Linked DNA regions of Homo sapiens: regions 1 and 2 are each linked to region 3. Evidence: fine-mapped expression QTL. A gene starts in region 3. Each other region holds a variant in brackets. All regions are shown on one strand. Distances are between the middles of the regions.

Region 1 (10,712 bases), 120 kb before region 3:
AACCAAGAGGCTATCACAGATTGGAAGAGACTAAGGGCACATGACAACTCAATGTAGCATAGTAGACTGGACTGGACCCTGGAGTAGAAATAGAACATTATTGGAGAAACTTAATAAAGTGCATAGTTTAGCAAATAGTACTATATCAGTGTTAATCTTTTAGTTTTAATAAATGTACGAAGGTTATGAAAGATGTTAACATCGGGAGAAGCTTGATGAAGGGCATACAAACACCCACAATATTATATTTAACTCTTATGTTTTTTTCAAAATAAAACACACTTCTTGATGTCTAATATAATATGATTAACCTCCATTGTGGTTGCTAATTTTCTCTCTTAAGATCAAGGTTATAAGAGATTTCCCACAGCACCACTATGGAAATGATGTGGAACAAAAAAGAGAACAGAAGGGAAATGCCTTGGAGAAAGAGGAGATAGAAAACCAAAGAAATGTTAAATAATGTGGAAAACAAAAGAAAAAAATGGAAGGAGTGGTACCACCTCCCACCTTGAATCCCAACAGGCCACTGGGACCCCAGTCTGGCATTTCAATAGTCACTTGCCATCATTCACACTCCTCTCTCATCACCATATTAGTTAGGGCACAAGCTAAACTCTGTAATATAAGCCCTCACAAATAGAAGAGAACTTCAAAAAGCTCATGGAAAAATGGAATTTAAAGATAAAAATAAAAAATAAAATCAATTCCTCAACATAAGCTCCATCAAGTTCAATACACTTTTGTAAGTGATACCAGCCATACAGTCTATCCCTAAAGAACTGAGAGGATCAGGCACAATGGCTCATGCCTGTAATCCCACAATTTGGAAGGCGAAGATGGGAAGACAGCTTGAGGCCAAGAGTTCAAGAACAGCCTGGGCAACACAGTGAGACCCCATCTCTGCAAAAATAAAAAAAGAATTCGCCAGCCATGGTGGTACAAGCCTGTAGTCCCAGCTACTTGGGAGGCTGAGGCAGGAGGATCACTTGAGCCCAGGAGTTCAAGGCTGTACTTCAGCCTGAGCAACAGAGTGAGGCCCTGTCTCAAACAAACAAACAAAACGCTGAGGGTCCTAGGAATTTAACCATGTCATTGCATCTTTTGCATGTTGTTAACTGAGGAAAAATAGGTGCCCTTTAAAGATTTTTGAAGATTAGGAACAAAAAGAAGTCAGAAGGAGCCAAATCAGAACTGTGAGGTGGATACCTAATGATTTGCCACTGAAACTCTTATAGAATTGCCCTTTTTGATGAGAGTAATGAGCAGGAGCATTGTCATCATGGACAATTGGTTTCTAGCGAAGCTTTCCCAGAAGTTTTTCTGCTAAAGTGGTAGCTAACTTTCTCAAAACACTCTCATAACAAGCAGATATTATGTTCTTTGGCCCTCCAGAAAGTCAACAAACAAAATTCCTTGACATCCCAAAAAACCTTTGCCATGACTTTACTCTCAACTGGTCCACTTCTGCTGTGACTGGACCACTTTCACCTCTTGGTAACCATTGCTTTGATTGTGCTTTGTCTTCAGGACCATACTGATAAAGCTGCGTTTCATCTTCTGTTACAATTCCTCAAAGAAACGCTTCAGGATCTTGATCCCACTTGTTTAAAATTTCTGTCAAATCTCTTCTCTGGTCTGCAGTTGATCTGGGCACAAGAGTTTTGATAGCCATTGAGTGGAAAGTTTGCTCAACTTTAATTTTTTAGTCAGAATTGTGTAATCTGAACCAATTGAGATGTCTATGGTGTTGGCTATTGTTTCTGCTGTTAATCCTCAGTCCTCTTCAATTAGGGCACGAATAAGATTAAATTTTTCCTCACAAACTGATGTGGATGGTCTGCCACTGTGGGTTTTATCTTCAACATCATCTCATCCCTTCTTAAAATGAGTTGTCCATTTATAAAATCCCGGTTTCTTTGGGGACTCTTTCCCCATAAATTTTTTGTAAAACACCAATGGTTTTGCCATTTGTCCACCCAAGCTTCATCATAAATTTGTTGTTTGTTCTTGCTTCGATTTTAGCAGAATTTATGTTGCCCTGATTGGGGCTCTTTTCAAACAGATGTCTTATCTTTTGTGCCTCAAACTAGATCGGGTTCAGACAAACAAGTTAGTACAAGTTTATTTTGGTGCAAAAAAAGATGAAACTCATGTGTAATTTTTCATACTATGCATTTTCCATGAACTTTTTGAAGACCCCTCATTCAAAGATTAAATAAGATTATAGTTTATTTTTCTCTTATTTCACAATTCAGAAGTAGATACTCCAGATCTTATAGGATGATTCTGCCATTCTCTATGTAGTTTCTGTCGCTGGGGACAAGCCCTGGGAAAAGAAGAAGAGGCAGGGCAGCTAAGACTCCTTCCTTGGTTTGCTTTTATTCTGTTCACATCCCATTGGCCAGAAATAAGGTACATGGCCTGATTAATGTTGCAAGGGAGGCTGGGAATATAGTCTCTAATAACTGGGCAAAAGTAGACCTGTTGAGAGTAAAAGTCATAGAAACTCTAATAACCAGCTAATGCTCATCAGTTCTCCTGTTAAAGAAGAGAAGAATCTGGTTCTGGTAGAAAAAGAGCAGTCTGTGCCACTAGTTCTAACGCAGAATCCTTTCAACAAATTGGACCATGCACTGCTGCAGAATTTTCTATTTAAGGTGACGACAAAAGTACAGGCAGTCTTCAATTTGACAGAATAAAATTAAATTTTATAGAAGACAATATGTGATATCATGGGGCATGGGATAAGGGGAACACTATGACATTAGTCAAATTTATCTAAAGAGAACATTAGAACAACCAAAGGTAGAATCTTAGTGAGGCAGATTTTTTGGGAAAATGGCCACAATTCTTCATGCCTTTCCATACCTTTACCTCTGTGCAATGGGACTTTGCCTTTCTTCCCACCAAGAGAGTCTCTTTCTCTACCCTTTGAACCTGGACTGCCATTGTGACTTGCTTTGTTTCCATACAATGCAGAAGTGACTTTGTACAAGGTCCAAGCCTAGGCCCGAAGAAGGGGGCCTCGTCATGAGGGGAATTTTCTGTCTGTTTAAGGGAATGACAAAAGTCCTGAGGGGTGGGAAGAGAATCAGAGACAGAAAGAGGGGGAAAAGTTGCAAAAGAGGGCACCCTAAAGGGAGGGTCCTGCCAGGGTCAAGGCTGGGGGTTAGAAAAGCACAAGGAAGAATAGATGATCAAGTGGGAAAAGTCTCTAATTATTTTGTAAGAAACACACCTACTTCTCAGCGGGATCACGTGCTCATCCTCTGTTCTAAATCAGAAATCAGAAAATACAGGCCTGGACGAAATTCCCCTTGGAATTTTTGGGGGGCAAGTCACAAGGGCATTGCTCATTCCTCTTCTTTCCCTTAGAATGCTCTCACTGTGTGAATAAGGTCAGGCTAGCCTCCTGGAGGTTAGACACCATATGGGGTCAAGACAAGCCGTGCCAGCTAAAACTATCCTAAACCAGCCAGGCTCCAGCTGATTTGGTAGCAGGCCACAGATAGAGGAGGAGCCCAGCTGAGATCAGCTGATGTACTGACTATTAGCTAAATAAGTGGCCATCATTTAAAGCCACTAAGTTTAGGGGTTGCTTGTTATGCAGCAATAGCCACCTGGTAAAACTGGTGGAGCTCAATTCCTCTGTTTTTTGTTTGTTTGTTTGTTTGTTTTGAGTCAGGGTCTTATTCTGTTGCCTAGGCTGGAGTATAGTGGTGTGATCCCGGCTCACTGCAAGCTTCACCTCCCCAGGCTCAGGTGATCCTCCTACCTCAGCCTCCCACGTAGCTGGAACCACAGGTGTGCACCACCATGCCCAGCTAATGTTTGTATTTTTTGCAGATACGGGGTTTTATTATATTGCCCAGGCTTGTCTCCAACTCCTGGACTTAAGAGATCCTCCTGCGTTGGCCTCCAAAAGTGCTGGGATTACAGGTGTAAGCCACTGCACCTGGCCTGGAGCTCAATTTTTAAGGGATGAGCTGATGAAAATGAACTAGAAGAACCGCAAAAGAAAGGCAGAGAGCTGCAAGAGAACCAGCAAGCAATGCGAATCACAGAGACCAGAGAAGTTTCAAGATGAAGGAAGTGGCCCTCAAGCAAGATGAAGCCTAAGAGAGTGGTAGCTTTTTACAACAGGAATACTAATTTGAAACACCACATAGGTAATGAACACACAAATAGAAACTATTATGTACTTCCCATTAATAGTGGAAAATTCAGTTTCTTCTTTTGGTTAAACACATACCGCCTACACCACTGCATACCTTTCAGACAGGAAAATTGAATTTATAACACATTCAGAACATGAGTGACTTCCTTTAATCTTAATGTTCTCCTAAAAGTCTTATCTCCAAACACTGATAATACATTGAGGGTTAAGGTTTTCACCTATCAATTTTAGGTGGACACATTTCAGTTCATAGAGATGATGATGATGATGATGAAGATAGATAGATAGATAGATAGATAGATAGATAGATAGATAGATAGATAATAAATGGATGGATAGATAAATGTATAGGTAGGTAGATAGATAGATAGATATAAATGGATGGATAGATAAATAAATGGTAGGTAGGTAGGTAGATAATAGATAGGTAGATGGGTAGATAGGTAGGTAGATAGATAGAAGATAAGTGGATGGATAGATAAATGTATAGGTAGGCAGATACATAGATAGATAGATAGATAGATAGATAGATAGATAGATAGATAGAAGATAAATGGATGGATAGATAAATGTATAGGTAGGCAGATAGATAGATAGATAGATAGATAGATAGATAGATAGATATAAATGGATGGATAGATAAATGGATAGGTAGGTAGGTAGATAGATAATAGATAGGTAGATGGCTAGATAGGTAGATAGATAGATAGATAGATAGAAGATAAGTGGATGGATAGATAAATGTATAGGTAGGCAGATAGATAGATATAAATGGATGGATAGATAGATAAATGGATAGGTAGGTAGGTAGATAGATAATAGGTAGATAGGCAGATAGATATAGATAGATAGATAGATAGATACATACATACATACATACATACCCAAAACTCACATGACCCTAGGGCCTTCTGATTGTGCATAAGTCCAAGAAGCTGTTGGTCCCACCTGTGACCAAGTTGCAGGCTGACTTAATTAGCCCATTGTCTCCATAACTTCCAAGACTCCTTCCTTCTGTTCATTAGTTTTGTGGCCCTGTTGCCCTGACCCACTCCCCTTCTCTTTTCCTTATTTACTTCCTTTCTCCTCTGTTCCCCTAAATTATTATCTTCATATTTCTGAGCCCCACACAGTCCTCTCCTCCTTTCTTGGCCCACAATTTATTCCTCAGCTTTTGTGTAAAAGATATTTGGAGAACCAGATCTTTCCTGCTCCACATCACTAAGGAGTGGCCTGAGCTTGCAATAGTCCCAAAGCCTAACCATCACCCTCCAGGCCTCCAGAGGTGAAGTGACAGAGTCAGGGAAGCTGGGCTGCTACTTGGATGAGTGAACTTCTCTCCGGCCGCAGTCTATCCAGGCATAATGTGTATATTTGTGTATGTGTATGTGTGTGTATGTGTGTGCATGTGTGTGTATGTGTGTGTCTGTGTGTGCATGTGTGTGTCTGTGTGTGCATGTGTGTGCCTGTGTGTGCCTGTGGTGAGGAAGATCACGGCCTTTGGAGTCAACTCTGGACTTCACTTACAGCCTTACCACTTAGTAGCCGTGTGGTCTGGGACTTAACCTCTCAATGCTTTGTTCCATTCTGTACAATCACATTAATAATAATCTTTACTTTGAATGATTGATATGAGCATTAAAGGGTGTTAAATTTGCTAGAGCATCAGTTTTATGTCAGAGTCACAGATACTGCAAAGAAACCATCTAACAGTGCCCAGCACATAGTGGGGGCCTCAATAAATGCTGGTTATTATTGTGATCCCTGTCTGTTAATCCCCATAGCCTTGCCCCACTGGCCTGGCTAGACTCTTTGTCACCTTCTGTTGGCTCTTCCTATGCCTGGTACCTGCCAGTTTACCACCTTAAATCTACCTATTGGATTTAATTTCCTCAAATCATCTCCCTCCCAGTCCAGCGGGCAAAGATTGGTTCATGCCCTGGCCTCTTCTGGTCAGACCTATCCTGCTAGAGTTAATCAGGCCAGGTCTGCCTGTGTCTTAA[C/T]GAAACCATTTGTTCCTCAAAATGACTCTCTCAATAAATGGAGTAAAAACACAATGATGATTGGGAGAAAAGGGGAAATGCGTAAGAGGACATGGCACGGTGACAAGCACATTCAAGGCCATAAATATGTGGCAATTGCTTTTCTCATCTAGTTCTCTTATTTTGAAACTTTCCTGGAAGGGACCTGGTATTATTAGCCATTATGATGAGGCAGATGCTGTTTATTTGCCCAGTCACATAAGGATCATGTAGGACTGACAACCAGTGAGGAAATTATGTCATTCTTCGGGACAGGGGAAGGAAGAGGGAGGAAGGGGCTTTGAATGAGGACAGATGGGGCAGGGTTGGGGTGTACTTCCAACACCTATAAGAGATTTATTGTGCTTTTAACAGTCTACACTTACACTTAATTGAAGACTACTTAACCAATTATTTCATGAGCTGTCTGGTAACACTTAAATCCTACCTTTCTAATCCCTGACTGGCTACATAGCCACAAAATCAGATTACATCGTGATTAGGAAAAAATTTACACATGCATAAGCCATGTCACAACAGATCACTGTTCTTGCCAAATATTTCCTACATAGCTTGTAAACCTCTTAGGTATTTGCTACTGCACAGGTTGCTGACAGGATACAAAGAAAATACAAGTTCTTGGCCTCTGTATATTGGGCTTCCCTACACAGGGTGAGTCCCCGCCCAGCCTCTGTACCAGGCCCCATGCTGGCTGACCACACCTCTGCTCATCACACTTGGGGCTGCAGCCATGCCTGTGCTGATCTGGGACTTGGCACTCAAATCTGGAGAGTCTCAATCCTGGGATCAACCTGCAAATGTCAACCCACAATGTGAGTCTCTTCTTTATGCATCCTCTTAAGGATTTAGTGAGCCTCAGGAGCATGTTGAGGCCAAGGCTTCAAACCTGATGCCATCTGTACTTTCTCTGGGGAGGTGGTCTCTCTCTGCCTCATCTCTGAGAGATAATCCACGGCCCCCAACCCTTGTTAAATTTCCCTGCACAATTTCAGGTGACCATCCTTGCCAGATCCTGATTGGGCCTGGAGAATTGGCTAGTCTCATTTTGTTTCTGTATCTTAGTCAACTTGGGCTACCATAACAAAAGGCCATAGGCTGGGTCTCTTAAAAAACAGAAATTTACTTCTCACAGTTCTACAAGCTGTCTAAGATCAAGATACCAGCAGGGTTGGCATCTGATGAGGGCACTGCAGCTGCCTTCTCACCATGTCCTCCCATGGCCTTACCTCAGTGTGTGCATTCCAAGAAAGAGAGAGCTCTCTCCCTCTCTCTTCCTCTTGTTGTATGGCAGATCTATCTGATCAGGACTCCAATCCTACCTGATTAGGACTCTACCTTTATGACCTCATTTAATCTTATTTCTCTCCCATAAGCCCTACCTCCAAATGCAGTCACTTTGCAGGGTTAGAATTTCAATATATTAATTTTTGAGGACACACTTCAGTCCATAGAAAGACTATATATATAGATAGATCGATAATAGATAGATAGATAGATAGATAGATAGATAGATAGATAGATAGATAGATAGATAGATGAGAGATCTGCATTCATATCACATTTAGGCTTAAAAATGTTTACTGTCGGCTGGGCATGGTGGCTCATGCCTGTAATCCCAGCACTTTGGGAGGCCAAGGCAGGCAAATCACAAAGTCAAGAGATCGAGACCATCCTGGCCAATATGGTAAAACCCCGTCTCTACTAAAAATACAAAAATTAGCTGGGTGTGGTGGCGCGTGCCTGTAGTCCCAGCTACTCGGGAGGCTGAGGCAGGAGAATCGCTTGAACCCTGGAGGCAGAGGTTGCAGTGAGCCGAGATTGCACCACTGCACTCCAGCCTGGTGACAGAGCTAGACTCCATCTCAAAACAAAACGAAAAAAAAAATGTTTACTGTCTTCTCTCCTTGCCTTCGGGATAGAGCCCACACTGCTTAGCCTGGCACCCATGGCCCTCTGCCATGGCTCCTACACCAGATCCCTGTGTTAAGCCCATGTAGTCTCCATTCTCCCATCAGGAACATCCTTCTCAGCTAGAACCAAGGTGATAATGGTTCCCTTCCCACCACTGGGGCCCTTCCAGTGGTTCTGTTTACAATCCGGAAACTATTTCCTCCCTGGTTACTGACCATAGATGACTTCACACATTCATTTATTATTTATTCACTCATTCAATGTGTAGGCACCACTAAAGCCTGATCTGGGCCCTGTTTTATGAGCTGGCCACTGTCATATGCTCACATTCAGGGATGTGGATTTTGCTCTTTAAACCGTAACAGTACAGCCACATCACAATACAATAGCCACTGCCTCTGTCTAGTAATAAAGGCAGTGACACAGCAAAAGAGGACTGTTTAGATACCTCATAGCCCCCAAAGATGAGCTCTCCAGGCATGGCGCGTGTGTCTATCCCCTCTCAGCCAGCCTAAAAAGTTCACTCTCATAATGTATGGCCCCTTCCTTTCCATGCTGTGCAAGAACGTCTTCTTGCCCACCAGCCTCACAAACTAAACCCTAATCGATGTGAGAAGATGAGCTGGGAGATCCCATTCCTTGGAGCTCCTAGTCACTTTGTCACAACCTCGGGAGGCAAAACTGATTATTGTGGAAGGTGGGACAAGGTTACCAACCTGCCAGACACATCAAAACCTGGATGGTTTGAAAACACAGACCCTTGCTAAACAGGAAAGTCATAACAACCTCCACAAGGGAACTCTCCAGAGGCAGGCTGGGAGGGGAGGAGCACCTGCTGCAGCCTGCGGTTGGTGCATGAGAAATTCCTGAGCACTTAATTTCATTTCTGTTTCATGATATACTGCAACGCTTATTGGGAAATTAGGTGAAGCTAAACTATGGTTTACTTTTAGCTGACAAGCACTAAGATCTGAAAGGTAAAACATTTTGGCTCTGAATTCTGGGGAAACAAATTACACCTTACCCTACATTTTCAGGGCCTGTATGCTTGGTTTGGTGGGGGGTGGGGGGCGGGGGGCGGGGGTACTTGTGAAGGAAAGCAGCCAGTAGAAAGAAAAGACAGAGATGCCAGTGAGAAAAGAAACTTTGCCAAACTCCAAATACACATTGGATCAGGCCAGAACCCACCCGACCCCTGCTGTCACCACCACCACCACCACCATCAAGATAAAGAGTGGATCTGTCCTTCCCATGTCTTCCACACTTTTGCTTGCCTCCTTGTGGTTTCAAGGGGGCCCTTGATTCTAATTTTCCCTTAGATTTCACATATAACAATGTTGGACAGGGGATCTCTAATGATTGATGCGGGCAGTTGCTAGTGCTTTAAACCTTTTCACATATTTAATCCCATCTCATACTCACCATAGTCCTGTGAGCTAGGTATTAACCCTCTCCCACCCCCAATTTTCCAGGTGAAAAAACTTAGGCTCAAATATCCATTGACTTGCCAAGTGTTTTCCACTAGCAGGTAACAGTTAAGAGAGTTTCAAACTCAGGACTTCGCCATGGAGAATTCTGGCTGAGCAGCTATGCCAGTCTCACCAAGTGTGGTGATCCTGTAGGCCTTCTTTCTTTTGTTTTTGTTTTTGTTTCTCAAGACACATACACATACATACACAGACACACAGAGTATGTCTCCATTTATACAACATGTGGAAAAGGCAAAAGTATACAGACAGAAAATAAGCTTGTGATTGTCAAAGGCTGGGGTGGGGAGAGGGATGAACTAAAATGTAATAGAAGAAAATGTAGGGAAGTGAGGGAACTGTTCTCTGTCTTCATTGTGGTGTTGACTGCATGATTAGACGTAATCGTCAAAACTTTTAGAATTCTTACGATAGTTTACTGAGAATGATGGTTTCCAATTTCATCCATGTCCCTACAAAGGACATGAACTCATCATTTTTTATGGCTGCATAGTATTCCATGGTGTATATGTGCCACATTTTCTTAATCCAGTCTATCATTGTTGGACATTTGGGTTGGTTCCAAGTCTTTGCTATTGTGAATAATGCCGCAATAAACATACGTGTGCATGTGTCTTTATAGCAGCATGATTTATAGTCCTTTGGGTATATACCCAGTAATGGGATGGCTGGGTCAAATGGTATTTCTAGTTCTAGATCCCTGAGGAATCGCCACACTGACTTCCACAATGGTTGAACTAGTTGACAGTCCCACCAACAGTGTAAAAGTGTTCCTATTTCTCCACATCCTCTCCAGCACCTGTTGTTTCCTGACTTTTTAATGATTGCCATTCTAACTGGTGTGAGATGATATCTCATAGTGGTTTTGATTTGCATTTCTCTGATGGCCAGTGATGATGAGCATTTTTTCATGTGTTTTTTGGCTGCATAAATGTCTTCTTTTGAGAAGTGTCTGTTCATGTCCTTCGCCCACTTTTTGATGGGGTTGTTTGTTTTTTTCTTGTAAATTTGTTTGAGTTCATTGTAGATTCTGGATATTAGCCCTTTGTCAGATGAGTAGGTTGCGAAAATTTTCTCCCATGTTGTAGGTTG
Region 2 (10,712 bases), 66 kb after region 3:
CCAGCTGTCCTCGGCCGTCCTGGGCCTCGGACTAACAAGCGGCTTTAATTGCTGGGCAGGTCATGTGGAAGGTGCTCCTCCCTTCAACCCAGTAAATTCAATCTCTCTGAGACTTTGTTAGGTGTAAAAATGTTAATCAGAAATAATTATAACAACAATAGTTTATTTACAGTACTCCCAGTAAATTCTAAAGAGGGAGACAAAAGTTAGACTTAACTTAGTTCCCACAGGGATCCACCAGGATTGGAGACTGACCAATACCAGGTCAGGGATTGGTAGAGGGCATAACAAATGCCAGGGAAGGGGAGGGACTAGGGGTTGTGGGTTTCACAAGGAAGGTAAGAGGAAGAGCAGTCTAGGATGCTCTGTAAAGGTAAAGGAGCATGACTGAGGACCAGCAAGGGTGAATGCACTAGACTGGCCAACAAATAACCAAATGTGAGTGAATTTGACCTGCCTATCAAAAATGGCCTTGGAAGAGGCTGAATGGGAAGTCACTTCTCAGTCCTTTTTGTTACTTTACACAACCTACAGCCTGTCCAGGAAGAATAATAATGTAATTAAGGCAACTCTTCTCTCTGAGCCAGGCCACAGAGCATGGGAGCAGGTGCCCCACCACCCAATTCCTCAGCTGTGTTTGGAGGAAGAGCAGAGTTATAGTCAGAGCTGTGGCCCAAGCCTCTTCCTGTGAAGAGAGTGTGGTCAGAGCAGACCAAGGGATGCCTCAGGGACTTTTTTACTATCCCAATTCCAAGAACATCTGTGGTACCGAGCCAGATTCTTCCTCTTGCTTGAAATTGGGTAACTTTAGATATCATCATAACTCATTCATCCATTCAGAGAAAGTGGTTGAAGCAAACAATCTCTGTTCTTGCAGACAGCAAAGCACAGTAGTGCTTTGTGCAGACATAGATAGAGTCAGGGCCATAGGACTTCTGAGGTAATTCTGCTTTGTAGGGTGGAAGGCAACACTAGTTGAGAGGACTTGCAACAGAAAGGAAAAGCTAGGGCCGGGCGTGGTGGCTCACAACTGTAATCCCAGCACTTTGGGAGGCCGAGGCGGGCAGATCACGAGATCAAGAGTTCGAGACCATCCTGAACAACATGGTGAAACCCCGTCTCTACTAAAAATACAAAAATTAGCTGGGTGTGGTGGTGTGCACCTGTAGTCCCAGTGAGAGGTGAAGCCAGCTGGACTTCCTGGGTCTAGTGGGGACTTGGAGAACTTTTCTTTCTAGCTAGAGGATTATAAATGCACCAGTCAGTGTTCTGTGTCTAGCTAAAGGATTGTAAATGCACCAATCAGCACTGTAAAAACTCACCAATCGGCACTCTGTGTCTAGCTAAAGGATTGTAAATGCACCAATCAGCACTCTGTAAAATGGACCAATCAGCACTCTGTAAAATGGAGCAATCAGCAGGACATGGGCAGGGACAAATAAGGGAATAAAAGGTGGCCACCCCAGCCAGCAGCAGCAGCCCATTTGGGTCCCCTTCCGAAGCTTTGTTCTTTCGCTCTCCACAATAAATCTTGCTACTGCTCACTTTGGGTCCGTGCCACCTTTAAGAGCTGTAACACTCACTGCGAAGGTCTGTGGCTTCATTCTTGAAGTCAGCGAGACCAAGAACCCACCAGAAGGAACCAACTCCAGACACACCAGCTACTCGGGAGGCTGAGGCAGAAGAATTGCTTGAACCTGGGAGGCAGAGGCTGCAGTGAGCTGAGATCTCACCACTGCACTCCAGCCTGGCAACAGAGTGAGACACTGTCTCAAAAAAAAGAAGAAAAAAAAAAAAGAAAGGAGAAGCTAGCAGAAGAGAAACAGGGCACCCCTCCCTGGTGCATGAAGCATCCTGGAGCACTTTCATCACAGGTGGTTTTGTAACTTACATCACAGGTATTGCTGTAAGGGCAAGGTTAGAGAGAGTTTGGTTTCCCTTCCCTCACCCTGATCCACCCTATCCATCCAAAAATGCATGTTTGGAAAATGATCCCGAAGAAAGAGAGTGCTTCTCCCTAAGGCCCACAACAGGAGAGCTGGTCTAAGACACTTCTCCACACCTCCTTTAACCTATCAAGTCCCAGTTCCATCCTTTTACTCCAGCAAGAGGGGCAAGGGAGAGGACAAGGGGAAGTGTCCCAAGATAGGTCTCCTTCACTTGGCGGGAACTTTTAACTTCTTCAGTCTTCCCATGAGTGCACCCCTCCTGCTAACTGGGATTCCTTGGCTCACTGGCATTCTGCCTAGAGATCAGAGGATCATTTCTCAAAAGACAGTCAAAAACAGACCTTTGGGAAGGGCAGCATTAAACACAGATGTCTTCATGAAGGCCTCTCCAGAGCCTTTTGCCTTTGAAGAGAAGTGAGGCACGCAGGACTTTCCAAACTTACTGGTCCATGGAATTGTTTTTAGAAGCATCCCGAAAGGCAAACTTTCAGAATTCCATGGACCAATAAAACACGGGAAATGCAGTGTTAGGGTGTGGTAGCAACACTCCGATTATACCCACAATCAAGGTCTGGTCTGAGAGCCACTCTGTCATTTTCAAGGAACTTTAATGTATCTGTTCTCCACCATCATGGGTTGCTTTAATTTGATACACTCTTGGAATGCTGGGAGCACTTGCCTGGAATTTCAGCCTGCCATCACTGTTGGTGACAGCCTCATAAATGGTTTCCCGAAGTCCCATTTGGCTAGTCTAATTTACCCAACCTCCCCATGCACTCTTACCAAACTGGCAGACCCTCACAAGCTCATCTCCTCACCATGCCCCGTTATCAGTAAAGGGAGAAGGAGAGGAGGAGTATTTCTCCCTATAGGACAACGGCCTGAATTCCAACAGCCTCCCCTTCCCCAATTTCTTTCTGCCTTCGTGTGTATAAGTTGCTGCCCTCGTCTTTCGGTTGGAAGTTTCTAACATTTTCTGCAGGAGAGTCACAAAAGCAAGCCTTTAGGCAGCCCCTCCGGAGCCTGGCCCACATTGTCCTTTTCAAGACCTCCAGCTCTGAGTTTGTGACTCCCCACTGTGGCTGCAGCATAAGTTGCCACACAGAGGAGATGCCCACCGAGGGTGGATATTTTGGCCTGATCTCAAACATCTGTCATTTGCTGTTGTAAGATCTGAAAGTCTGGGATGGCCTACATTCCTGATTCTATATTTCAAGTGGAATAGTGTGCAAATGCTCAGTATCCAAAATAAATGGGATATCAGCTTTGTCTCTGGCATTAACCAACTCATTAAATATAAAATAAACACAAGTAAATGGCCTTTAAATCTCACTGACAGAAAGCTTGGCAACTACTCTGAGATTCTAGAGGTCACTGGAACTTCTCTCTTCAAACAGGAATCTTCCTCACACTGTGAGGCACAGAAGGACAGGTCTGCCCAGTGAGGAGGGTTTCTGGGTGCTCCCTTCCACGTGGGTGCTGCCCTGCAGAGCTAGCTACCCCGAGAGCCTGTCCATGGAGAATGATGGTTACTGCCCGGACGGGGCACAGAGAAGTGGCTGTTAGTTCTTACAAGTGGTTAGAAATTCAGGACTAAGGCTTTCACTTGCCACTAATTATAAATACCTAGGAAGAGCCACCAAACCTTGGGTTTCTGATTGCTCCCTACCTATTGGCTATTCCCAGAGAGCCCATATTCACATGGTTTCCTAAATCCTGTGTACACTCACTCTCCCACGGGTCCCCCGGTCCCATTAGTAATGCTACTTGCTGAACACTTCGCTTTGTCTCAATCTATCTGTAGTTTCAACATCAACTGGACTTGTTGGGGAAGGTGATGGCCCAGGTTCTCTGGAAAATTGATGTAATTATTCACCTCATGCCAAGCATGCAGAAAACAAACTGTAATAATTCACCAACCATAAAACAAGCACATGCACCTCTTTGCTCAGAACTTTACTTCAGGGCTCAGCTAGATTTCAGCGATTACTGACCTCTTTTATAAAATCAAAGTGAAAAATGTGCAGCTTTTGGTAAAAAGCATGTTGACTTGATAGTCCTTCAAACATGGGTGCTTGCCTGGGAGGCTGTGGGTGAGGAGGTCCATTATGCAGAAGACCCAGCTGTGGTCAGGTGTCAGAATTACTGGCTTTGCCCATTCACCTCAGTCAGCTTTCTTTTTTTTTCCTGTTTCTTTTTTAGAGATAGGGTCTCACTCTATCACTCAGGCTGGAGTGTAGTGGTGCAATCATAACTCACTGCAGCCTCAATCTCCCGCTCCTGGGCTCAACCAATCCTTCTACCTCATCCTCCCGAGTAGCCATAGCCAGGACTGCAGGCACACACCACCACACCGAGTGCATTTTAAAAACATTTTGTAGCGACAGGATCCCATTATATTTTCTGGGCTGGTCTCAAACTCCTGGGCTCAAGCCATTCTCCCACCTTGGCCTCCCAAAGTGCTGGAATTACAGGCATGAGCCCCTGTGCCCAGCCTCAGTCAGCTTTCACAGTCTAACTTTGTGCCAAGAAGTTAGTAAGATCTGAAACTAGTCAAAGTAGCTTCCATTTATTCACAGTTTTAAAAACATTTTTCAAGTTTAGTCAACTTCCCAATATAATCAAAGGACAAAATGGCAATAAAAAATATACTTCATCAGATCTTAGAGTTATACAATCAGTTAAAAAATAGATATTGGGTTTTAAACAACTGACATATGCTTTCCTTTTCCCCCTTTAAAGGTTTTCAGTAGTCTATCTGAAATCACTGAATCACTTTTCTTCTCCTCCACAGAATTCAGAACTTTTTCACCCGGAACTGGAGAAGGAGCACTCCGTCATTAGCTGAGGGGAATGGCAAGGATCCAGGGGTCCTCCATGACTACACAACCATCCTCCTGAGCACCTTTAGGAAATCCAATGCTGTCTGAGAAGCAGCAGGGCCAGATCCAGATCTATGGAAAATTAATATCTGCAGTGCTTCCTGAAGGTCACCTCAGTCTTTATGCCATTTCAAAAGCTAGCCCGGGGCTTGAGAAGAAAAGGGAAGTGGCATTCCAGCCATATTTGGGGTGCAATTTAATTTTCATTGCGTACCTCATGAACAGGGGCAATAACACATTCTAGGATATTCTTCCAGCCCACCCACTCTTCCTCTTTCTCTTCTTCTCTTTCTCTAACGAGTGGTAGTGACAGGATGCAAGTCTGCGCTCTTGGTAGATAAACGGAGAAGCAGGAGAAAGAACTATTCCATAATCAGTTAAACGGGGAGTTTTCAGAATCCTGTCTTGTCATTTAAGTGACTTACTGAAGTCCTACTAAGTTATTGAGACTATATTTCTTTACTTTTTGCACTGGGACATTGAAGCATTGAGACACCAGAAGTCCAAAAGACGAAAAATGTGAAAATCACAAATTTAAAGAAAATGTAGAGGTCTCAGTTCTGAAACACCATGCTTCAAGTGTTGTCATTTTTGAGAACATTTTTAAAAGGCATCTAATATTCCAGGACATACGGTTCCCATTACTGGCCCAGCAGGTACACAGGGTCTCCCACTTTGATGGTCCCTGGGTTTTCCAGCACAAAATACTGCCCAAAGAGTGGTGATTTTCCATATAACTTTCGTTCTGAAGGGTCACACTGGCGATAACTGCAATAGGAAAAGATCATGATGAGTCACAGCCAAGCGGATGCAAGAGCTCAACCAGCACGTGGCTTCCATCCCACACAGGGCCTCCGCACGCACAGCTCGAGAGGGCACCATCCC[G/C]TCAAAGCTCAACAGAACAGCGCCTCCTGGAGTGGGGCAGTGAACAGCCTGCCCAGCAAACAACGACAGAAGCATAAGCAATGGCCACATCCCCACATCTTTTCTCTACCTTCATGTTCCCCCTTTCGGCATTAAGACGTTAGATACTTGGCCAGGTGTGGTGGCTCATGCCTGTAATCCCAGCACTTTGGGAGGCCGAGGCTGGCAGATCACAACCAGGATGGAGATCAAGACCATCCTGACTAACACGGTGAAACCTCATCTCTACTAAAAATACAAAAAATTAGCCAGGAGTGGTGGCAGGTGCCTGTAGTCCCAGCTACTCGGGAGGCTGAGGTGGGAGAATGGCATCAACTTGGGAGGCGGAGCTTGCAGTGAGCGGAGATTGTGCCACTGCGCTCCAGCCTGGGCAATGGAGCAAGACTCCGTCTCAAAAAAAAAAAAAATTAGATACTCAATGTGTCTAGACATACTTTATCATCTTCCTTTGCCCTAGGCATCTTTCCTCCTGTCTCCTCCATGTCTGTCACCTGAACCACCATCCTAGCCGTCACTTGGGCTGGGAGCCCATCCTTTACACCACTGTCCTCTCTTCCCACAGCCTGTCCGCAGCTGCCGAGTTCCAAGGTTCTTCCTGTACAACATCATTTGACTTGGCTTGCTTTTCCTCATTCCGACTGTCACGATCTTGCTTCCAGCATGCTCAGACTATCATAATAACTTCTTAACCAACCTCTTTTCCTCATTCTCTACCTGTTTTCAATTCATTGTTGACACTGCACTATATCACTGTTTTAATTGTGTTCTGGTCTTATCATTCCTAGGCTCACAAACCTTCCGTGGCTCTCCAGTGCCTAAAGAATAACATTCCAACTATTCAGCCTGGTATGTAGGGCTCTACCTGGCCCCAGCCTGCTTTTTCAGACCTGTTGCCATCTGCTCCTTACCTGTGCCTCTGCAGCTCTCTGCTGGATTTCACCTTGCTTTGCATTGTACTGACTCGGTAAGTCCTCTGTGATTCCTGTGGGATGCTCCTCCTCCAGGTCCCCATGCTTTAGAATTGTACCTGCCTCAAGGCCCAAATCAAACACCACATCTCCCAGGAAGGAAGCCCAGGTTCCCCCAGCTACGAGTAATTCCCCCTCCTCAATTCTCTTTGCCCCTCCAATACTCACACATCTTGTCCTGTAATGTCAGGGCACAAGTTTGTCTGTTCTACAAGGCAGAGTCCCTGGAGAACAGGAACTGTGATTAATGCCCTTGTACTGCTCACGCCCAATGCCGGGCCTCCTACATCACCTGTGACCCACCATTGTTTGCTGGCTGGATTAGTATGCTCATGAGTAAAACCGTCTGTCAGAGGCAGTATAAATATGAATATTTTTGTCCAGCAGAAAATTAAAGAAGACGCAGGGAGAGGGTACATGAGCAGATGTGTGGGACTCACATGGCAAGATTCCCCCACCTTCCCCACTGGGAAGAAGTTAACCTTCAGTTTTTTATTTAATCTAACCCTAATTTTACATCATTTTTATATTTAAAACATTTTAGATAAATCATTCATTTTATTCTGCCTTGCTTTAAAAAAAAGTGAAAAAGTGACTGCAACAACTTGGTTCTAATGTTGTTCTTCAAATCAGAAATTGTTAAGGAGAAAACAGAGAGTCAAATCTAGAACCACCTTCTGGAGACCTGCAGCTCCTTCCCCAGACTGTAAACATCCTGTAGGCAGCACTGTGTCCACTTTGTTCTCTGTTGCATTCTCATGGCCTGGAACAGTGCCTCACACATACACTGTAACCACTCAAAAATAATGTTGGTTGAACAATGAATGAACAAATGAATGGATGAATGAAAATAACAAGCTGCTGATGCAGGCTTCCCTGCCTTGCCAAGAGTATTTCCTCTCTCTGTAATCAGGTTTCTGCAATGCCCTTGGACCTGACAAACCAGGCATCTCTCCTAGCCTGGCTCTCCTCTTTCAGCATGCAACATTCATGACATTCTGAGATCTATCTGTCAGAGGGTGACCTCTTCAGGAACAGGGGACACATCAGCTGCTTGTATGGGTGTTTCCGTTGCTGCCAAGCTCTGCAGTCTAAGAGTCCAGACTCTCATTATCTTGGGGAGAAATTGAGAGTTGGAGTTCTGCGCATCACACATGGATAGTTTATAAGGAACTTTACACATGTTCTCTTTTTTAATCCTTACAACCTGCTTATGTGGGAATTTGCCTTTTCTTCATTTTACAGTTAAGTCTCAGGGGGAGTAACAGACTTGCCTGAGATCACAGATCTAAAGGATCCAGCTGGGGCCAGAGCCCAGGCCTGGCTGACTTCAGAGTCTAGTGGACTCTTCCCACCCAGGATGTAACCCTGGTCGTCGACATCCTCCTGAGTACACCCACAGGCCTGAGAAGAACCGAGGGGTCTCACAATTTAGTCACCTACACCAATTTCTAGCCACTTACATTTTTCACCTATCCCTTCCTGCCAACCAAGCACAGACACACTCACTCCCCCACCAGGTAATGAGGAGCAGAGGACCGTAAAGAGCGGCTGCCCCTCTCGGCACAGCCTCCCTAAACTGCACAGGTCGGGGTGAGGGAGCTGCTTTGTGAAAGTGCAGGTGTGGTCACCGGCTCACAGGTGGCGGTCCACTCCGCTGTCTAGGAGTAGAAGCGGGAAGAGCTATGGGAGTGGAAAAGGGGTTCTCGGTGGGCCGGCCTGCCAGGGCTTTCCTACAGCTGCCTGGTTTTGCTGCGGGCTCTCACCGCCTCCTGCACCACCTCCTCTTGCTACTGCTGCGGAAGCCCGCCTCCAGGCTGTGGGAAGACTCAACGAGGTCACTAGCGGCGCCTTGTGGCACTAAGAGGTATTGCAAGCAGTCTATGAATTCGTGCGCACACTAAGTTCAACACTCTGAAACAGTATTCTTTCATACATGGGTCTTCTACGATTTTTTAAATATGTGACTTTTCATATATGTATTCCTGTTGGTATTAATAAATTAAAACTCATTTAAAATCTTCCTTAGTGCACTTTCTCCTTAAATGAACATGAAACATAACTATTCTAATGAGCAGGAAGCCCAAGACACTTTATTTAGCTTAAAACCGAGGTCTCTATTATTTACAAGGTGCAATGTAAATGGAAACAGTTTGTTACCGTTAAAGTGCTGTGCACCACAGAGGGCTGATCCTTGTTTACCCTGCCTGGTTTACGCATTCACTGGTCAACGTCCAGGCCATGACTCCAGGCAGAGTATCTGGTCACTGCCCGATCCCACCACTGGCGTTCATGGGACCATAAGTCACCAGCGGCAGAAGCCATTCCTGAGGCCTCATGACTGCCTATCTCTATGGCCAGGTTAAGAATTAAACAGCATTGTTAATCCCAATACTTTGGGAAGCCAAGGCAGACACGTCACCTGAGGTCAGGACTTTGAGACCAGACTGGTCAACATGGTGAAACCCTGTCTCTACTAAAAATACAAAAATTAGCCAGGCGTAGAGGCGCATGCCTGTAATCCCAGCTACTTGGGAGACTGAGGCATGAGGATTGCTTGAACCCAGGAGGCGGAGGTTGCAGAGAGCTGAGATTGCTCCACTGTGCTCCAGCCTGGGTGACAGAGTAAGACTCTGTCTCAATAAATAAATAAATTAAATTAAATTAAATTAAATTGAAGAATTAGACGGCATCGTGAACGTTCCTGGGAGAGGTGCCACACTGAACCTCCAGAGGCTGGCCGCTGGGCAAGTTCGTGTTAGGTTTCATTTAAAGCAGCCTCTGAGTATGGGAAGAAGTGTGGTCAGGCTTCTCCTCCTCTCAGAAGGTGTCAAGTTTATAAACAGTGACTCTCAATGACCGCAGCTTACATGGTCACTGTGTACAGTATTTTATCATCTATAAAAATCCTATATCTTGCCTTATTCCAGTCTACCAGAAGAGGTATTACAAGTCCAGTTTATACCAATAAAGAAACTGTGACTTGAAGAGCCTAAGCGACTTGCCAATGTCACACAATTAGGAGGTGACAGAGCCAGACTAGGGTGGAGAGTCTGCCTCCTCCCATGGAGTTACCACTGCTATATATTCTGTGTTTAGCTCAGCAGAGCACAGCCTGACACAAGTGGCTGCTGGCAAATGTCATTACTGTCACAGTATTCGTGCATCCAGCAAAACGTTTTTTTTTTTGAGTACCCATGCAGTAACTGTGCTATATTCTTTCCATTAGGGGCAAAATGTCATGGAAGCAACAACGGCAGACTCCAGCCATTCCTTCAACCATGGGGATCAGTGTGTACGTCACTTTCCCTTAAGAAAGAAAAGAAAAATTCCATTTTCATATCTTCCTGTTAGCAGACATGCCTCCACTGTGCCTCCCGCTGTGAGCATTTTACAGACAAAGGCTTCCCTATGCCTCTGTATTTCTTTTCCTCCCACTGCTGTACCACCGCGGGCTCTGCCTGTGGGTGACTAACATCAGGAGGCAGGGCTGGTCAGGCACAGAGGTCTCCCAGCTGAGCGCTGGCATTCCAGAAGCAACCCCAGCCATGGGCACCATGAGTGCCCAGAGGCAGAAAGTGGTGTAGCTCTGAGCAACCTGCCCAATAGCAGAGAGGCTGTGGACACCACTGTTTGCTTCCCTTCCCATGATTTATGGGATGTGGCCAGGCCTTTCTCTTCCCGATTTATGACCACCTGTCTTGGGAAGAACATAAATTACACATCCATGGCAATTTAAATCTCAGTAAGAGATAGGAGAAGACACCTAGGCTGGCCGCACTGTCTCCTGGGGTATTAGAAGCAATTAGGGCCAGATTGTTGGGCTTCACAAAGCCTGCGGAAGATCAGGGGGGTGTGCTGGCTCCTTGCGCCCCCCGCCTTCCCACCCTCACTCTGTGTTTAGGGTCAATTATCCTCCTTCTATAAACACAGGCTCCCAATGGAGGAAGGGGGGCACTGAAGATGCAGAGAACAAGCCCAAACACGTG
Region 3 (10,712 bases):
TTGGTGCAGAGAACGCTCACTCCCCTCAGTCCGCTCCGTGTCGCTGGGGGCCATGTCCAGGGACTCGGAGTCGCTGCTCTCGCTCTCAGCCTCGCCTTCAGAACGGCTGGGGCTCCTCTCGTCCTGCTCGCCATCCGCAGCCGGGGCTCCACCTGATGGCTTCTCGCCAGCCTCCTTGTCCTTGTCCTTTTGGGCCTGGGCCTCCTTGGAGTGCCGCCACTTCATCCGCCGGTTCTGGAACCACACCTTCACCTGCGCCGCGCCACACCGGGAGACAAGAAGAGACACCGAGATGAGACCCAGGTTTGCTCCTATCCGACTCGCGTGCACCCTCAAGCCACCTCCCTGAGTGAAAAAGCAACGCTTACTTGGCGACTCTACCAAGGACCAGACACTGTGGTAGGCGCAGGAGCCAAGGGGCAGCCCAGGGGAACACAAGAAGCCAGGAATCCTGGCCTAGGGAACCCACTAAGACCGTTTTCAAAATGCAACCCTCAGGCCCCAGGACTAAAATGACCTGAGTGACTGTTGGAAAGGCAGATTCCTGCACCCGACCCCCAACATACTCTCTCTCTACTCTAAATCCATGTAATTTTTTTATGCCAGGACCCCCATGAGAATCTGATTAAAGTTATGGACTCCTAGCCCAGAAAAATACACATATGCCCAAGATATTGCTTACAATGTCAAGGGTTTGGTGTGCCAGTGTTAAGAATTCCTGCTCTAAGTTGGCCCTCTCCTCTACTGCCACTACCCAAAGCAATACTTTTTTCAAAAAAGGAAACATGGGAAGCAGAAAGGGAAAGGGGTTTTAAACTGTTAATCACAGTAGGGTGGGGGCATTGTTGGGCTTTCAGTAAGACAGCATTTCTTTGGTGTGTTTGTACGCAAGAGCTGATAAGGACCTTGCCCCTGTTAAGGATAAACAAATTCTCCTGGGGGCTCAGAAAACAATGGAATTAAATGTGTGCAAAATTAAGGAAGGGGATAGAGATGGGGCAGAGAATCTATACAGATATATACGATCCCCTGGGGGACCCAACGCATTCACACAAGTTCCAGCTTCCCTTTTAAAAATAACATCCACAGCTGGTGGAAAACGGCTGGGCTCCTCGTGTGTGTGTGTGTGTGTGTGTGTGTGTGTGTGTGTGTGTGTGTGTGTACTGGGGAGAAGAGTTGTGTAATGGAGGTCAGAAAGAAACAGAGACAGCAATTTGGGGACCAAGGAGCTAAGAAAAAGAAGCCTGCCTCTGGCTTCTGACCTGCTGGGGAAAATCAGCACCCCAGAGCCAGAGCCAGTGCTATGGGGTGCACAAGAGTGACTCTTCCACAGTCAAAGCTCGGGTGGTGGGGGGTGGGGAAGCCCAGTTCTTAAATTTAAGAAAAAGAATAAAATTATTTCAGCCACAATACATTTCCTATTGTCTTGAAAAAATTCAAATAGGCAGAACCTGCTGAAATGCTCTTGGGTATTCTAAGAGAATCATTTTTCTTTCTTTCTTTCCCTCACCTCTCCCCTTCCTTCAGATTTTCTTCAGAGCCTAAGCCTTGTAATGTGTGGCCACTCCAAGCAGACTCCCTGCCCTCCTGGAGCTAACTAATTCCGTTTGAAATTATATTTTCACTTCCTCACAACTGGGGATTTCACAATCCAGCAGAAGCAGCAGGAGGAGGAGGAAGGAGGGAGGGTGAGAGGGAAAAAAACCCAACAACAATCTCTTGCCTTTGGGTTTTTATCTTTTCTGAAATAAACTGCCTCCTACAGCGAATTGCACTACAGTTGAGTGTATCAGTGTTATTTCCAGCGGCCCTTTTGCTTTCTCCGTGGTTCTTTAGCCTGTTGGCCAAAATAAACATGCAGTGCTTGTTGACACACATCTTGGGGATGAGCTCTTCTCTCGGTCCTTCTCCCTCACCCCATCTCCACCCTCCTCTTCTCCTGCCTCAAGTTGCGTAGTCCACAAAGCCTCTTGAAAGTCAAGATCTTGCGTTTGCACCGCAGGAGGCCAGTCGGCCGGGATGGAGGGGACCTACCAGACTAGGCCGTGCGCTGCTGCCCGCCCGAGGGCGCTGTGCGCTGGAGCCAGAACTGCCTTACCTGTGCGTCCGTGAGGCCCAGCATCGCCGCCAGCTGCTTTCGGTCCGGCTTGGTCACGTACTTCTGAATCTCAAACCTTTTCTCCAGGCCTTTCCTCTGCAGGTTGGAGAACACAGCGCGCGACCATGAACGCTTCCTTTTGTACGTCTGCGGCATGGTGTCCTTCGTGAGCACAGCATAGGGACCTGCCGCAGAACGGGAGCCAGAGGGAAGAAAGACAAGAGGGCCGTTCAGTGTCCAGTCCTTGACCTGCCAGCCTGGGGGTCCCCGTAAGGCTTGAAACTGTTTCGTGTTAACTGTCGATTCCACCCTCATTCAGAAAGCCCTTCGCACATACACCGAATGGCCCCTCTAAGGAGGAATTTTACACGACAGTCGGAAGACCTAAAGCGAGCGTGGAGTGGAGAAGCCTGGCGGCTTGTCCTTTAATTCCAAGAGAAAAACATAAACCTCATGCGTGGCCATCAGGCCTACGAAGAGTAGACAAAAATGTCCCTTGGGCCTGAATGATGACAGCCCTGAATTGAATTATCTCGTGTGTGTGTGTGTGTGTGTGTGTGTGTGTGTGTGTGTGTGTGTGTGTGTTTATTCCCGCATGTGTCCAGGCACCCAGACATAAACTCGCCAAGCACAAGTGTTTGAGGTCATCCCAAAATGTGTATATGCTAATAAGCAACATTGATGCTGCATTTTTCAAGCCCTCTGGGGCGAAAAGACTTCGAGAAAGCCCCCCACCCCACCGTCCACGCACACACTTTCTGGGATCTCCAGGCGCCTCTACCCCTTTTCAAGGGGAACCATCCGAAGCGAGCGCTAGCTCGCTGAGAAATCTTTCGGTTTCTCTCTCCTGACTCCGTAGCCTCCCGCCCCAATTGTGAGATTGCGACACCGTGGCAGCCCTGGAGGCGTCAGTCCTGAGATTTCTGACTGTTAGTCGGCTCGCCCGTTAGGCAGTACTCTGGAGTTTTTCCGTACCTGGAAACGTGTCTTGGAACTGATGCTGAACTGAATTTCTTGGGTTCGAGTTTAAGGGACTCAGGATTGCAGAAGCCTCGTTAATGGGATCTAGAGATGCGAAGAACTGGCCGGCCGAGGGCTGCAGGCCTGAGAGGTGCACCCCGGCGGGCCGCCCACCGGTTAGCAGGGAAGTGAGATCTGGGGACAAGGGAAAAGGATAGCAGGTTACATCTCGGGCACACTCACACTCTCCGCTGATTTGTTCCTCCCCTTCCCCTTGCCCTGGATTCACTTTTATTGAGCGAAGTCAAGAGAGAACCCGTCTAGGCGCTGAAACCTCTCTCTCCCAACAGTTGCCAAGGAGCGACGCACGAAAAGTTCCTGTGTGTCCCTCACGTCCATATGCATGTATATAGTAAGTAAAGGCTTTACATAAATCGGCTTACGGCCTCACTTTCACGTGTCTTCCAAGAACGCCACAGACGCAAAACCTCCGCCCCAAGGTGGCCCCACTCTGCCCGCTCATCTAGGCGGTTTTGTTTATTATTTACATTTCCTGGGTGAAATTTTTACTAGAAATCAGATAAGTGCGAAAGTGTTTCCCAAAAATGCTTTAGCTGTCAGAAAATATAATTCTGTCTCTAGATACATTATTAAAGAGATCAAAGTCATGTTAGCAGATAATTACACCAACCACTTTTATAAATATTGATTCTAAGACGTGTTTTTAAAGAATCCCTGGAGTCATTTTTTGTTTGTTTTACATAGAACAGGTGAGTTTTAGACCTAATGTTTTGTAGTTTTCTTACAATTCGTTTTCTTCTCTCCCGTTTTACCGATTTGTCCTTAATTGTAAAAACACTCAAAGGCACCCCAAGCCAGCCCGGGGTCCGGGGAGTGGGTCAGTGGTCAGAGGCCTGCAGCCTCCCGCCCAAGACCTACCTCTCAGCGTGTTGCCTTCTTTGACTTTTGGGTCAAATTCTGCAGATAAAATGCGGTCAATTCCAAATTTGAGGTCTTTGCTGGAGGGGGCCGGGGCAGAGCCACTGTGGTGGGGGTTCGGAACCACTCGCGTCCCCGAGGCCGGGGGCTGCAGGGCGCCAGCCCGGGGCGGAGGCGGAGGCTGTTGCTGCTGCGGCTGTTGCTGCTGCTGTTGTTGTTGCGGGTGATGGTGGTGGTAGGCGGCTGAGAGCGGAGACAGCCGCTGCGGGAAGCCAGCCGGGACTTCGGAGGGCGCCACCACTGGGGTGGGTCGAAGCGGGGATCTGGCCGCCGCTTGGAAAGAGGCGTGCGGGTGAACCGAGCCCAAGTGCGCGGTGAGGGCGGCGGCCGAGGCCCCTGCCAGGCCCTCCGGGGCCGCCCCCAGATCCCCCACGCCGGCGTGCAGAATGTCTGCGATGCAGAAGGAGGGCTTTTTGACGGCGGCGGGGTCCAAGGGGAAGGAGCAGCCGCCTGGGCCGGCCGAGGAGCAGTAAGCGGCCGACCAGAGGCTGAAGTTGGAGGCGTAGAAGGGAGCCAGCCCGGCTGCGAACATCCTGCCGGGGTGAGCCGCGCGGCTGCCGCAGTCCAGCCGGACTGGGTGGGTGGGCGCGCGGGGAGGGGCGCGCGAGTCCCGGAGAAGGCGGCGGCAGCCGAGGACGATCCGCTTTCGCTTCTCCGCCCGCACTGAGGAAGAGAGGCCGGGAGCCCTAGCGCCACCGAGGGAGGAGGCGAGGGCCGGATCTCGGCCGGTCACCGCCTCGCTCCCTGGCCTCGCTTTAAAGGCGGCGCGGCGCCCGCACTCCTCGCGGGCTGGATGAGAGCGAGGGGCGCTGGGGCCGCAGGGCGGGCGGGGGAGCCAGGGAGACGGGAGCCGGACACCGCAAGAAAACCCAAATAGCTAAGCCCTAAGAGCTAAATTTAAAACAACAACAATAATAGTCCGTTAGTTAGGGGGGGGGAAAAGTAATAGAAAAAAAAAAAAACTCGTCTCTAAAAACTCCCAAAGTTTTGGCAGGAGCTTTCGAGTCAGGCCCGGGGTAGGACCTCGATCCGAGCGCTCATTGGTCATCCTCGTGACCAATGGGAGCGGGGAGTGGAGGGGAATTAGGAACAAGGGGGCCTGGCCGGACCCTAGCCACGCCCCGGCCACGCCAAAGTTTTTGCTGCGGCCGCGTGGGCTTAGTAGCGCACATCGCAGTGCTTCTTGCTACTCTGCGTAGGGGCCAGGCAGCCGCTCCGGAGGGCTCTGACTCTCTTCTAACTTCTGCAGCTCCGAACCGCCACGGGGCAAGGAGGGTTGATCACAGGAGCTTTCCTGAAGCGCTTGTCACCCGGGGCGAGTTGGGGGCGTGGGGAAGGGACGGTAATCTCACTCTTTAGGGCTCTGCAAAGCCCGCCTCCCGGTGGAGAGCGGAGCGCGCTTTGGCCCCTTTGCTTCCCTTCTCTTGACCTCATTCTGCTTTTATTCCAGGAGTCCGTGTCCTCGGCAAAGCCCCTCATCTTTCCTGGGCCCTTGCCCAAATGTTGCCGCCCTGAGTCCCGGCCCAACTCAGCACCGCGTCCGCCTCGTGCCTCCCAGGAGATCCTCCGGGAAGCGAGGAGGAGGGGCGGCCGCAAATTGGTTTTATTCTGAGCTGTCACACAGTGACAAATTGAACGAGTGACTTTTCAAACAAAATAAGACGGATGGCTCCAAACGTCTCTCTTAGACGCAGCCAAACCTTTCCCCGGAGCCTCAGAGGCTACAAAACAGGCTGCCTCCCGAAACCCGGGAGAGCGGCACGCGCTTCCATCCTTTGCAGGAGGTTGTAGGAAATGTTAGCCTCACCCCTCCACCACATCTCCGGATCACGTGGGGTTCGTTGTTTTGCAAGTGCCCACAAGAGCAGATTTCCGTGGGGTTCAATACTGCTTTCAATTCTGTGACAGCTTCCCCAGGAACCCCTTGGGCCTGGTTGCAGGAGGAGCTGCGTGGTGGTCAACGTCTTCCATTCGTGCCTTGGGTCTTTAGAACGCAGGGTAGTGGTGGTGGAGGTTTTGTGCAACATCGACATATCTATTTTAAGAATTTCTTCTCTTTAAATTATAGTCAGAATGAATTTCCCCACCCCTCTCCCAAACAAACCACAGGCCACCCAGATGAGCTGTTCTTGCACATTTTCAGGAAGAAAATAAAATAATACGAATAATGAAACCACGAAAACTTTTGTTTTCGATTGCCCTAATAAGCATCTCCTAACAGGGATTCTGTGACATTTTTATTTCCCTTCAGCACGAAGGCTCCTCACCAAATAAACCCAGAAAAGCAAGTGAACTTGCCATGCCTATCTCGAGTTCAGGGTTTGGGCTTATAAAATTAATTTCTGGTGTTTTCTCTAGCCCCTTGATGCAGATGCTATCCTTTTAAGCTTTTGACTTTCTCCTGGAAAATTATCAATCACTTCTGATCAGCCAGCACTAAGATCTCTCCCTCTCCCTCTCTCTCTCCCTCCTCCCGCCCTCCAGCTCTCCCGCTCTCGCTCTCCATCTCTCTTTTACTGAAAGGTTTTCTTCCCCTGCTCCACGCAACCAGGAGAGAGGTGCTATTTCCAGAGATAGATGGGTGTGTTTGGCTGAAGGTAGGGGTACCTGGGGCGAGAGACGTATTAAGACCAGTTTTTCTGTGTCAAGGTGAAGGCAAAGGAGCGACAAGTACAACATGGGCAATTGAGGCGCTGGCTGAGGGTTCTGGTGAGCCTTCGGTGGGAGTGTGCGTAGCGGAGGCCGTGAGCCCTCTGCTTTCTAGTGCCACTTCCAGTTTGATTGCGTTTCTAATTTGACTGCAAACATTTAGACCTCAGCCTAAGCCCAAACTCACGGTTGTGAAAGAGGTGCATTTACTCCTTACCCGAGGCAGCGCCGCGCGCCCTCACCCTCTCTCTTAAGAAATAAGACTCCCCTATCAGCTTTCACCCTTTCCAAGGTTTGCGACGCTCCGGGGTGGGCACGGGATACAGACCCGGGGGAATGCGAGTCCTCAGGGTTCCCTAGGTGCCCACAACTCGCATCTGCCGAGATTCAAGGCCCGGAGCGCTGGGCAGATGCGGCGAAAGCGAGGCCCCGAGGCCCGCCGACTCCTCGCGGCGCCGCGAGCCTCCCTTTCTCCGCCAGGCCCGCGGCTGGAGTGCAAGTTGCAACTTCGCCTGCGCGCCCCTTGCTCTCCCAGGCCTCAGCTTCCTCGCAACCGCGTCGGCGCCATCCAAGGCCTTACTCCCAGCTCCCGGAGGCAAACGCGAAATACAAGTCTTTGGAGCGACCCCCGCCGCCCCCTCTACCCCTTCCCCAGGCCCAAGCCTGGCCCCTGCAGGCCCCTCGCCGAGTTCTGAGCCCGCAGACTCCCGCCCTCCTTACTCCCCACTCTTCAGAACCAAGAAAGCAGCAGGAAACCCTGGGCTCGCCGGAGTTCAGGTCATCTCCTGTTTTTTGATGGGCTCAAACTCGGGACTAAATGAGCGGATGTGCCTGCGAGATTGGTCTCAAAATAGAAGCGGCCTTAGTATTTTAGGATACTGCAGAAATCCTTATTTCTTCCGGAGAAAAACTCTATAATGACTCCTAGCACTTCCCCTTTCAATATTTGTGCAACTTTATCTCCACCGGCAAGTTGCTCGGGTGACGCAAATCCGCCCTTATGTATTACAACTACCAAAATAAATGCACGGAAATCAATTCCCTTCTAGCAATGAAAATATAAATATACAGCTGCGACTTTCCCCTTTAATCTTTGCTTTCCGAGAGGCTCCGGGCTGTGGCGAAATGAACTGGCCCAGAGCTACTGAGCCGGGCAGGGAGGTCCTGGGGGTAGAGGCGAGGGCTCCCCAGGGGCTGGTAGCCATGGGGGTTGAGAATTTAACAGGAAAGAAAAGGGCCTGGCTAAACCGAATTAACTTGAGCTTGGTCTACGCAGCGGAGACCCTAACTGTGGCCTCTTTTCTTTGGAAAATATCGCATTGGCTGGGGTTTCTGATCATGCTGACTGCTGTTTTTAATGCTTTCAACTCATCCCTTCACTTTTCCTAGTTAAACACAGCCAAAGACGATTTCACCATATTGGGAATGGATAAGATCAGAGAAGGTTCGTTTTATAATTTAACAATATAGCTTATGGGGATTTAGGGTTTAAAAGGGTCCTGAATCAGGGGCTTATGCAATGACTGAGGCAAGAGATGGGTTTCACCATCCTTTGGTTCTACCTGTCTTTGGAGCCTCCATATTTAAATCATCAGTGCAGACTTTTGTCCCAAAACCAGAGTCACAGATCCACACTGAGCACAGGTCAATTATAGTGAATGCTGGGCCTTGTATATTACAGGACCATAACTCTTCAAGGACTTGAACTGGCTATATCTGCTATCTGTGTTGCTTTTTCTTGTGCATTCTGGGTAAAATAATGTGCAAGGCAGTTGCTCTGTGGACTTCGGAACCCCTCTCCTCTTAATTTCAAATATTCTTGCAAACATGGTACCTACTGGCTTCAAGAAAAGAGATGTAAATAATTAAATATTTACAATCAGAAAGAAAAAGAAACACAGCTTATCCAGCTACTTGAGAATTCAAGAAATTTGCAGCAACGTAGGAATCTGTGTATATTGTGCCTGTCTTTCTGCCAGCTGGAGACTTATGGATCACTGGTCCCAGCAGTCATACTTAGTGGTGGATATGGGAGTTCTGTTCTTTGTGGGTGCCAGATACTAGAGATTAGGACTCTAATGATCCCCCATAGACACACCCCCTACCCACACACGCATACTTTGGCCTATTCTAAGTAGGACACAACTCTCTTTCCTTGGAGACCTTAGAGTTATTCCAGAATTTCTGAGTTTTTGAGAAGAATTGGACTTTGCTATGGGGTGGGAAAAGCAAATAATGCAATAGGGCTACAAACATCCATAGCTATTTGATTTATTCTTTTTCCTTTTCTCCATTTCCCAGATGTGGCAGATTTGCAGGTGGCCAGCTCTCTATTTGGCTGTGGCCCTGCCCTTGAACTTTATCCATAGGTCTTGCTCCAAAGTTTCAGACAGCCTTTTGGCTCTGATTCCATTTGCCCTTTCCTCTCATAGGGCTTCTCACATATTTCCCTTCCTCACTACTAAGATATACCACTTTACATATATGTACCTCTCTCTCTCTCTCACACACACACACACACACACACACACACTCTCTCTCTCTCTCTCTCTCTCTCTGGGAATCTTAGAAATGTGGAGGGGAGGGGAGGCAGGCAGTTTGGGATTTGCTCCTGTTTCAAAGAGCTGCTTCTCTGCCTCTCCAAGTCATCCTCTCTACATCCAGCCAAGAAAGACCCCAAATCTCATAAAACCTATGGCAGAACCCATTTCAACATGGCACATTATAACAGACTCATATACATTTGCAATGAAATCATAAGAGTAAAATATGAGAGACTATCTGTAGCATATATGAGCTTACATACTTCATTGCACGGGCTTCTATTTAGTAGCTGTAAACAGTGCTCTCCCACTTCCCATACATTAGCCACTCACCTTGGATTTGTTGCCTGAATTATTGAATCTGAATGGCTGGTTGTTAAGGTAGGAGAAGGAGGAGTAGGTGAAAAACATATATCCAAAACAGACAGGGATGAAAGGCATTCCCAAAGCAGTATTTCTCTAAACAAACAAATAAACCTTCTTCCCTGTGAGACAGGTTTTCAAGTTAGAGCACAGGTTCTAGGGCCAGAAGAGGGACTCAGGCCCAGACTAAAAAACAGTCATGGGAAGGGATCTTCTGAAGGGAGAGGATCCTGGAGCCAATGAGAGGGATTTTGCAGATAAAGCCAATGGGTTGTTGTCCCCATCTCAGTGGTCCCAATCTGCCTACCAGCACCCGCCAGAACTGGGACAGCCCTGGATTTAATGACGGAGTCCCCCCAGCCCTGTCCCAGCCCACCAGGCCCGGGCATCTCCCTCCCTGGAGGAGCCCACCTAGTACTGAAAGTTGGTTCTCTGCTGACACCTGCTGGACCATCTCTACATTGTTTTATGGCAGTAACCATCCTGTGCCAGCAACATTGTTATGATGAAAGTTGACTCTTCCTTTTGCAAAAATGCAGGTTTCTAAAACTGGCTTTGACTAGCAGCTGTTTCCTTCCATATTGCAACAATATGGGAAGATCTTGTATTGTGTGCTTAAAATCACTAGACCGGGCAAGGGAAGCAGTCATGGTTCAGGAATAATACTGTGTACATTTTACAGATCTCAAGGTCAATTCACATTTATTATCTCACTTTTTTAAAATAACCAACTGTAGGATGCCGACGAGGGATTATTATCCCATTTGACTTTAGGAAGTTGATCCTCAGAAAGGTTAAGTGGCTTGCCCAAGGTGACGTAGTTGGGAAATGGTGTTGGAGGGAACAGAGGCTAGGTTTTCTGGTTCATCAACCGGTATTATACCATCCAGCCAATTTCTTCAGGGGAAATGGTTTATTCAGAGGAAAAACTCTCTGCCCTTAATCAGAATGTGTATTGATTTCAAACAAGGAGCTGTAGAAAAGAAGTATGTCTAACTCAGACACACTTCCCTGTCCTGAAATTTCTTTCTCTCCTCAGCATTAAATGTGGAGACTTCCTTGCCTCCCAGTATCATGCCACTTGTTAAATTCTAGTTTGG

Direction of the effects. Positions count from the first base shown, and alleles are read on the strand shown. Sizes are in standard deviations (SD) of each study's normalised expression. Not every link is listed here.
As copies of C replace G in region 2, the expression in cerebellar hemisphere of the gene that starts at base 5,004 in region 3 goes up (moderate effect, 0.45 SD a copy in GTEx).

The links. PIP is the estimated chance that this variant, and not a neighbour inherited with it, causes the effect.
Region 1: its variant is fine-mapped to the expression of HLX in whole blood (INTERVAL, PIP 0.94).
Region 2: its variant is fine-mapped to the expression of HLX in cerebellar hemisphere (GTEx, PIP 0.90).

The regions. Positions count from the first base shown.
Region 1 is chr1:220,996,263-221,006,974 of GRCh38, reverse strand. No RefSeq gene overlaps it. Among named protein-coding and RNA genes, the nearest start is that of HLX-AS1, 120 kb to the right of the region's middle. The variant C/T (reference allele first, on the strand shown) is at 6,184.
Region 2 is chr1:220,808,179-220,818,890 of GRCh38, reverse strand. MTARC1 (mitochondrial amidoxime reducing component 1) reads right to left here. Exons shown (of 7, transcript NM_022746.4): 7 at 1-5,599. The coding sequence ends at 5,473. Among named protein-coding and RNA genes, the nearest start is that of LINC01352, 16 kb to the left of the region's middle. RefSeq lists enhancers at 1-362, 4,975-6,174. The variant G/C (reference allele first, on the strand shown) is at 5,717.
Region 3 is chr1:220,873,735-220,884,446 of GRCh38, reverse strand. It overlaps HLX (H2.0 like homeobox), which reads right to left and starts at 5,004. Exons shown (of 4, transcript NM_021958.4): 1 at 3,998-5,004; 2 at 3,074-3,253; 3 at 2,099-2,283; 4 at 1-252. The coding sequence starts at 4,589. It overlaps HLX-AS1 (HLX antisense RNA 1), which reads left to right and starts at 4,307. Exons shown (of 3, transcript NR_046901.1): 1 at 4,307-4,598. RefSeq lists an enhancer at 3,671-4,279 and a silencer at 5,398-5,447.